Linked DNA regions of Homo sapiens: region 2 is linked to region 1. Evidence: fine-mapped expression QTL. A gene starts in region 1. The other region holds a variant in brackets. All regions are shown on one strand. Distances are from middle to middle.

Region 1 (4,390 bases):
ATGCACTAGCCTTGACTATGATTTGGTGGCCTTTGCCAGAACTGATTCAGGTGAGTTTAGGTGAGGGAATAAGGTTGCATTCATCAGATTGAAACATAAATGAGAAACACAGAAACAAGTCGGAACTGTCAGTGATTCAACCTAGAAATAAGAACGAGCTGACACAAACAGTTAGGGAAAACTGTTTTGAGGACATGCAGTCCCTCCATTCCTCCACATCGTCAAGGTTTTATTCCTGGATCAAACAGGACCATCAAACCTCAGCGTTTGTTCTCCTGAAAAGCATATGCACTGAGTTCTGCTCTGTAACTGTGTTCTTTGTTTCTACAAAGAAATACTTATAGACAATTTACTGCATTTATTTCAGAATTGTTACTAGAACAATTAGAGATAATATTACAATAACTTGGATAATTCTGCAAAATTAAAAATCCTGCATCTAATTTGCCAACTGCACTATTTTGGATTTGCTACTTCAGTTTTATTTCCCTTAATGTCAATTTTTGCCTATTTCTATTTTTCCATTTTCAAAACATAAACCCTTATAAACTTCAGAAATCCATTTTTAAACAAACTGGGAATAAAGAAACAAGAATCTCACCTGGGATTTGTTCATTTTCCGCTCTTAGTGGAGGAAGGAGAGCTGAAGGATTAGAAAGGAAGAATGTCAGGAGAGCCTTCGCCGGCCTTGCAGTTCGGAGATTCACCTGCCTATACAGGTCCACACACAAGATACTTACGTGTCCATGTGTGGCTCCGATATATGCTGAGCTCAGACATGACACTTTTCACTGAGTGAATGTAAATATTTCTTATTGATTTATTACCAATTTAGGTTCTGTGACACAGAAAAATTAAAAACATGAAAAGATGAGTTTAACAAGTTAACAGTAATCTGAAGGAAAAAACACTATGGGTTTGTCAAAATTCCTTGTAGGGAAAAAAAAAAACTGAGGCCATATTGTTTATCTGTTTACCTGTTAACACCATTAATGCCCTGAGGTTAGATAATGCAAAAGACCTCTAAAAAAAGGGATAGGATGTTAAATGCAAGTTTAAAAATGTTTGTTCTAACTTGCTAACAATTCCTCAAAAGGATCTTTTAATGAGAAACTGTGATATAGAGTAACAAAATGGGCAGCAGTGGCTCGGGAAACTGCAGACTTGACTTCTAATCTCAGTTCTGCCTCTAAGGAATGACAAGATCTGAACTACTCACCTCCTCAAACTCAATTTTGTTTTTCCATCTTTCAAATAAGGTCAAAACAGATAACCCAAGTATGACCTGACTGCACTACCATCCGGCGGGGATATCAGGCCAAGAGAGGAGGAAGCTCAGCAGCTCATCTGGATGTGCCCGGTGTTCGCGGAGGGGTGATAACAGCATTTCTTTCGCTGTGGCCGTGAGCCTTTCACCCGTCCCTGCCCTCAGACTCTCCAGAGGTGACGTTCCTGTTAGCCTGCGCGCCCACCCCTCAGCTCCAGCTCACCTCTCTCTTCTTAAATTTGTCCCAGACCTTGCACCAGCACACAGACTCCGACGGCTTCAGGATACTGTGCCATGATTACACATAATACATAAGCGAACGCGAAACGTGTAAATAATTACTTGGGATAGGAGGGCGGTCAGAGCCAGCAGGGGCCCTGGTGGTCAGCTAGGCCAGCCCCTTCGCTCCTGCACTCCACGGGCAGAGAGGCCCTTGGGGCCGGTGCAGGAGCCGTCTCCCTCGGGCTCTCCCAGGGAACGCACACCCAATAAATACAGCACCTAAACAATGAAAGTGCTCAAAACAACCCCAGGCGGCAAGTATTCCTAATATCCGTAATTTACAGAGAGGAAAACCGAGTCTCCCGTGGATAATTGTGTCTAATTCATTTGTCGCGGACCTGGCGCAGTCGCTCTCCCCCGCAGCCCCGCCTCCTCCCCGCGGGCTCAGGGCACAAAAAGCGCACACGCACACATCAAACGCCATGCGCACGCGCACAACAAACGTCACACGCTACGCACGCGCGTGCTGTCCCCTCCCCGCAGCCAGTTCCCTCCCCTTCGGGCCAGTGCGCATTGCCTACCCCGTGCTACAGGACTTCGCTGAGCGCCAGGCGCAGGGACTGGACGCATACGGACCCCCGGGAGCCCCGGAACTCGCGTTCCCACGCCAGACCTCATCCCCTTCTGACAGAGACGCCCTCGTCCCACCGTCGCCGCAGGCGCCAGGGGTCCCTCCCCACCGCCGAGGTCTAGCCGCCGCCCGCCCGCCTTCAGGGCAGCGCGGGGACCCCCTGGCCCTCGCCCAGTGCTCCGGGGCTCACCCGCCGCTCCTCGCCGCCTCCGGAGGCGAGGGATTGTTTCCCACAAGGGACTGGAGTCCAGGGAAGGACTCGCCTGGAGCGGGAGGCGGGGATGCACATGCGCAGAGGGAGAGGCCGAGCGCCCGAGTTAGGCTGGTGGATGCGATGCGGGGCTTGGAAGCGGCGCTAGACGGTGCCTGTCAGCTCTGGCCGCAACCCTCAGTTGTAAAATGAGGCTGATAGTGCCTACCTAGCAGGGGTTTTATGAGAATTGGAGGCGCTTACGTTGTAAAAGCATTTAAACCGGTGTCTGACACATAAATTGTTCAGTATATTTCTCACAATTATATATCATGCTGGTCATCATAAGGCTCTCCTGCAAAACAGCCTTGTATAGTGGGTTGAGAGATTACTGTCTCAGTTACCCACTCCTGCTTGGAACCAGGATTCTGTCAGTGTCCCCAGAGGTTGTGGATCAAATCAATGTGCCTGTTAGACACAAGCCAAGAGAAGGAAAGGTGTGCTTGAATTCATTCACGATCATGCATGGTAACGTTTAACTGAAAGACTGGAAGAGAAAACTAAAATCTGTGACCAGTATGGTTATTCTCTGGAATAAGGAAAAACAGAAGCTAGCAATTCAAGACCCAAACATAAAATTGTTTATATGTTTAAAAAAAAAAAAGCCGTTTGAGTAACAAATTTGAAGAAGAAAGCACGCACTCATTTCCCAAAACCAACCATACTTTACCCAGAACTACACTACACGTACATTCTTTTACGTGCACATCTGGCATTTTCAGCACACTATGAGCATGTGCGTGTGTTACAACTTTTCATTTAAAAAATCAACTCCTGGGTCATTGTCCACTTTTTTAAACTTTTCATTTGCTCATAATTTCAGATTTACAGAAGAGTTGCAAAATAGTTCCTATATGCCTTTCACCCAGATTCCACTAGTGTTAGTATTTTACATGACCATGGTATATTTATCAAAACTAAGAAAATAACATAGGTACAAGTACTATTAACTGAACTGCAGAGTTTATTCAGACTTAAGCAGTTCTTCCACTAATGCCCTTTTTCTGTTCCAGCAACCAATCAAGGATATTGTCACCGGGGGTCCTTGCTCCCAGAGCTCCCAAGATGGTGGTGGGCTGCTTCCGAGATGGGGGCAAGCCTCATGTTCTCTGACCTGGGGTTCTTGGCCTCATGGATTACAAGGAATGGAATTTTGGGCTATGTGGTGAGTGTTATAGCTCAATTAGAAGCCGTGGGTCACGGAAGAGAACTGTGGAACCCAGTGACTAGTGTTCAGCTCGATTAGGACCAACCTGGGACTTAGCTGTGCAGGAACAATGGCAAGCCTTTAGCCCAACTTGGGAGCAGCAATGGGCACCTCGCTGGATCAGGAGCACAGCGGACACCCTGCCAGATCCGGAGGGATGGAAGTCAGCGGCGGGTCTGCGAAGGCCGCAAACAGCAGCGGTGGACAGCGAGCGAAAGCTCAGCTCAAGCCGTAACAAACACGGACCAGAAGAGAGTGCAGTTGCAAGATTTAATAGAATGAAAACACAGCTCCCATGCAAAGGGAGGGGACCCAAAGTGGGTAGCTGTTGCCGGCTCCAATGCCTGGGTTTCTATCCCGATCATTGTCCCTCCCGCTGTGCTCTTAGGCAATAGATGATTGGCTATTTCTTTACCTACTGTTTTTGCCTAATTAGCATTTTAGTTAGTTCTCTTTACTACCTGATTGGTCGGATGTGAGCTAAGTGCAAGCCCCTTGTTTAAATGTGGATGCAGTCAACTTCTCAGCTAAGCTTAGGGATTCTTAGTCGGCCTAGGAAATCCAGCTAGTCCTGTCTCTCAGTATCACAGTACATTTACTTGTCATGTCTTAGCCTTGGCCAGTTTGTAATAGTTTCTTGCTCCTACCTTGTCTTTCATGACCTTGCTATGAAGATGAAAGCACGCTCTCTTGACTTCAGTCCTCCCACCTTGGCTTCCCAAAGTGCTTGGGATTACAGGCATGAGCAACCACACCCAGCCTATAGTTTAACTTTAAAACAAGAACGATAATGATCCCTTCCTGAAACTAACC
Region 2 (4,390 bases), 57 kb after region 1:
AAGAAAAAGGTCCCATTTCATTCTTTTGCATTTGAAAAACCAGCTTTCCTAGAACCATTTATTGAAGAGATTGCCTTTTCCTCATTGTGTCCTTGTAGTGCCCTTGCTGAAAATTAGTTCACCATATATGTTTGGTTTTTTTCTGGGCTGTCTATGCTGTTTCACTGGTCTAGCTGTGAAGCGTAGCTCTGAGCAGCTCCCTCAGGTGGGCTCAGCACCTGTATGGCCTGTAGGAGTCCCCAGTGGCAAAGACTGCAGGTGTCCATGTGGTAATGGGGGTTGCTGGCATCCTCCTGCATGACTTTTCCCTACAGGGAGAAGTCCTTCCTGGTTCCAAGTTGATCCCAGTTGGGGTATGGGGTGGCAGAGGTGAGGTATTTCCTTTCCTTCTCTGTGCAGCCCGCCTGAGTTTCTCTGTGTCTCTGTGCTTTGCAAGATTCTTTGACTCCTGTGCTTTATTCTGATCTCCTTTAGTTGTTTTCATTGAAAGAAGTTGTTTTAGTTGTTTTTGTGGGAGGCACTAGCTCTAGGAACTTCTGCTTAGCCACCTTGGTGATGTCACTCCTGTATTATTGATTTTGAAGCATCATTATTATTATTATTATTAGATGGAGTCTCACTCTGTCACCCAGGCTGGACTGCAGTGGTGCAATCTTGGCTCACTGAAACCTCCCCCTCCCGGGTTCAAGTGATTCTCCTGCCTCAGTCTCCCGAGTAGCTGGGATTACAGGTGTGCGCCACCACCCCTGGCTAATTTTTATATTTTTAGTAGAGATGGGGTTTCGCCATGTTGGCCAGGCTGGTCTCGAACTCTTGGCCTCAAGTGATCCACCCGCCCCCAGCCTCCCAAAGTGCTGGGATTACAGGCATGAGCTGCGGCACCTGGCCTGAAGCATTATTTCTAATGGCTGCTTTAAAGTCTGCCAGATGATTCCAGTATCTGATCCATCTCAGTGTTAGTGTCATTTGATTCTTCTCTTTTTCAAGTTGTTGTTGTTGGTTTTTGTTAGGATGTGTGATTTTTAAAGGTATCCTGTACATTTTTCCTACTTAGGTTTGGAAACTGTGAGTCCTATTTCAATCTTTTATTTTTGCAGGCAGATACCTTCTTTAGGTTTCAGCTTGCAGTTCTTGGCTTACCTTTATGGGCTGTGGTTCCAGTGACAGTTTTCAGAGTCTTTCTGGTGTTATTTTAGTCTACTCCTTTTATCTAGTACAGATGGGCCTGCCTCTGGTTCTTGTTGGTGCTGCCTGAAGGAGCCAAAGGAGTTTCTCCAGGCCATTCCACGAGGTATCTGTTGGTGGGGATGGAGAATTCTTAGGCCTGTGGATACAAAGAGGCTTCCTGGATGAGACCTTTTCTTGGCTGGGCCTCACCTACTTCAGTCTCTTGGTTGGGGAGGGGAGCACTTCTCCGCCTGTTTATTGTTGGAGGATTCTCCAGGTCAGTCGCCTTTGCCAGGGGTTTCAGGCTTGCCTGAGACTGTAAGAGGGGACTCCCTTTAGTTCAGGGAGAGGAATGAGCTTACTAGGGCTGCTTTGTTGCTAGTTTGGAGGTCAGGAAATGTTGGGTCTGGGATGCCTTATTCTGTGTAGATAAAGTGCCATGCTGTTGCATTGTTCCTCCAGTTCTGGGCTCATATGCCAGTTTACCTTTTTCTTACCACTTTTCAGAATTTCCTTTTCTTGTCCCTTGTTATTTCCAGAGGAAAGGAGGAACAGGGAGAAACGTTTGTATGCCATATTATTTAGACTAATTGTTTTTTATTTATTTCATTATTCTTTTCTTTATCTGTCTTTTTAAATGTATTTTTGTATTCCATTTTTTTCACAATTTGGATCAACTTTAAAAACATTATTATATAGGTGTTTCTTTGAAATTTACATCAGTTTCTTTAATTTATCACAATCTACCTTCAAATAATAATAGATCTTTAACTTAGAGTGTACTTAGTTTCCCCTCTCCTGTTTTGCACTATTGTTGTCATACTTTCCATTTCTTTTTTTTGAGAGAGACAGAGTCTTGCTCTGTCACCCTGGCTGGAGTGCAGTGGCATGATCTTGGCTCACTGCAACCTCCGCCTCCCAGGTTCAAGCAATTCTCCTGCCTCAGCCTCCAGAGTAGCTGGGATTACAGGTGTGCACAACCATGCCCAGCTCATTTTTGTATTTTTAGTAGAAATGGGGTTTCTCCATGTTGGCCAGGCTGGTCTTGAACTCCTGACCTCAGGTGATCCACCTGCCTTGGCCTCCCAAAGTGTTGGGATTACAGGTGTGAGCCATCACGCCCGGCCCCATTGCTGTGTTTCCAATAAATCCTGCATTATACTATTTTGCTTGCTTTAAACAGTTACCTTTTAAAGA[A/AT]TTTTTTTTTTTTTGAGATGGAGGCTGTAGTGCAGTGGCGCGATCTAGGCTCACTGCAATCTCTGACTCCCAGGTTCAACCAATTCGTCTGTCTCAGCCTCCCGAGTAGCAGGGATTACAGGCACCATGCCCAGCTAATTTTTGTGTTTTGAGTAGAGACCGGGTTTCACCATGTTGGCCAGGATGGTCTCGATCTCCTGACCTTGTGATCTGCCCGCCTCTGCCTCCCAAAGTGCTGGGATTACAGGCGTGAGCCACCGTGCCCAGCCCTTTTAGAGTAATTTTTGAATGAGAAATATTTTATATTTGTCTCATTATTTACCATTTTTGGTAAATTCTTCATTCGTTTGTAGATATTCAGATTTTCATCTGGTATTCTTTTTCTTTTGCTTAACAGAATTCCATTTAACATTTCTGGTAATGCAATTTTCCTGGTGATAAATGTTCCCAGCTTTTGTTTTTTGGGAGCATGAAAAGGTATTTCTTGCCTTTTTATGGGAGATTTTTTAGATGGCTATAGGATTATATTGGTAGGGGTGTTTTTCTTCTAATACTCCAAAGGTTTCATTCCTTTGTTTTTTGGCTTGGATACTTTGTGATGCAAGTCTAAGATAATTTTTAAATCTTTGTTCCTCAGGATATGTTGTATGCTTTTTCTCTGTCTCCTTTTAACATTTTGTTGTTGTTGTTTATAGGATTTTTAGAAATTGCTTTTTTTTTGAGATGGAGTCTCACTGTGTTGCCCAGGCTGGAGTGCAGTAGTGCAATCTAGGCTTACTGCTTACTGCAACCTCTACCTACCAGGTTCAAGTGATTTTCCTGCCTCAGCCTCCCAGGTAGCTGGGATTACAGGCATGTGCCACCACACCCAGCTAGCTTTTGTATTTTTAGTAGAGACAGTGTTTCACCATGTTGGCCAGGCTGGTCTTAAACTCCTTGCTTCAAGTGATCCACTCACCGCAGCCTCCCAAATTGCTGGAATTACAGGCGTGAGCTACCGCGCCTGGCCACATTCAGTGATTTTTAAGAAAATCTCTGGAATTCCCATTTGCTTCATATGTTATATGTTTCTTTTCTGTAATCATTTTCTTTTTAGTTGGTAAACATGTAGCATATTTATAATTGGTGATTTAAGGTTTTTTCTTTAACTCAATCACTTTTTCTCATTGTTTGCTGTTTTGCTGCTTTTTATGGGTCACTTTTTATACTTTTCACCATTTGTTGAATAATTTTAAATTTACAAGAATTTAAAACTTTTAATTTAGATTTGCAAAAATTGTGAAGATAGTACAAAGAGTTTTCATATATTATTTCACACTGTTTCCCCGGTTGTTGATGTCATACCTTAGTATGTTACAATTAGCACACCAATATTGGCACATTTTTGTTAACTGAAGTCCATAGTTTGAGATTTCTTTCAGACTCTACATAGGGCTGGGCATGGTGGCTCATGCCTGTAGTCCCAGTACTTTGGGAGGCCAAGGCAGGTGGATTGCTTGAGCCCAGGAGTTCAAGACCAGCTTGGGCAACATGGCGAAACCCCGTGTCTACAAAAAAATTTGCCACATGTTGTGGCATGTACCTGTAGTCCCAGCTACTTGAGAGGATGATGTGGGAGGATCACGCTCTGCTGGGGAGGTCCAGGCTGCAGTGAATCACGATTGTGCCACTGTATTCCAGCCAGGGTGACAGAGTGAGACCCCCATCTCAAAAACAAAACAAAACTTTCCTTATATGTCCTATTTCTGTTTCAGTGTCCCATCTCTATTAGCAGTTAGTCCCAATTATTTCCTCACCCTTATTCTTGACAACTGCTACGTCTACTTTGTATTTCTATGGAGTTGCCTAATGTGGAAATTTTATATAAATGGAATCATATACTATGTGGCTATTTGTTTCTGGCTTCTTTCACTTAGCATGATGTTTCTAAGAAACATTCTTTAGCATTTGAGAGAAATGCTAGTTAGTTCCTTTTATGGCTGAATTACATTTTATTTTATGGATATGTCAGTTTGTTTATTTTTCA

The links. PIP is the estimated chance that this variant, and not a neighbour inherited with it, causes the effect.
Region 2: its variant is the best candidate, but not a certain one, in a credible set for the expression of ZNF248 in whole blood (INTERVAL, PIP 0.51).

The regions. Positions count from the first base shown.
Region 1 is chr10:37,855,695-37,860,084 of GRCh38, forward strand. It overlaps ZNF248 (zinc finger protein 248), which reads right to left and starts at 1,916. Exons shown (of 6, transcript NM_021045.3): 1 at 1,491-1,916; 2 at 741-838; 3 at 602-643. The coding sequence starts at 616. ZNF248-AS1 (ZNF248 antisense RNA 1) reads left to right here and starts at 2,055. Exons shown (of 2, transcript NR_186559.1): 1 at 2,055-2,807; 2 at 3,384-4,390. RefSeq lists an enhancer at 1,409-1,468 and silencers at 1,786-2,162, 1,859-2,408.
Region 2 is chr10:37,912,519-37,916,908 of GRCh38, forward strand. No RefSeq gene overlaps it. Among named protein-coding and RNA genes, the nearest start is that of ZNF248-AS1, 57 kb to the left of the region's middle. The variant A/AT (reference allele first, on the strand shown) is at 2,365.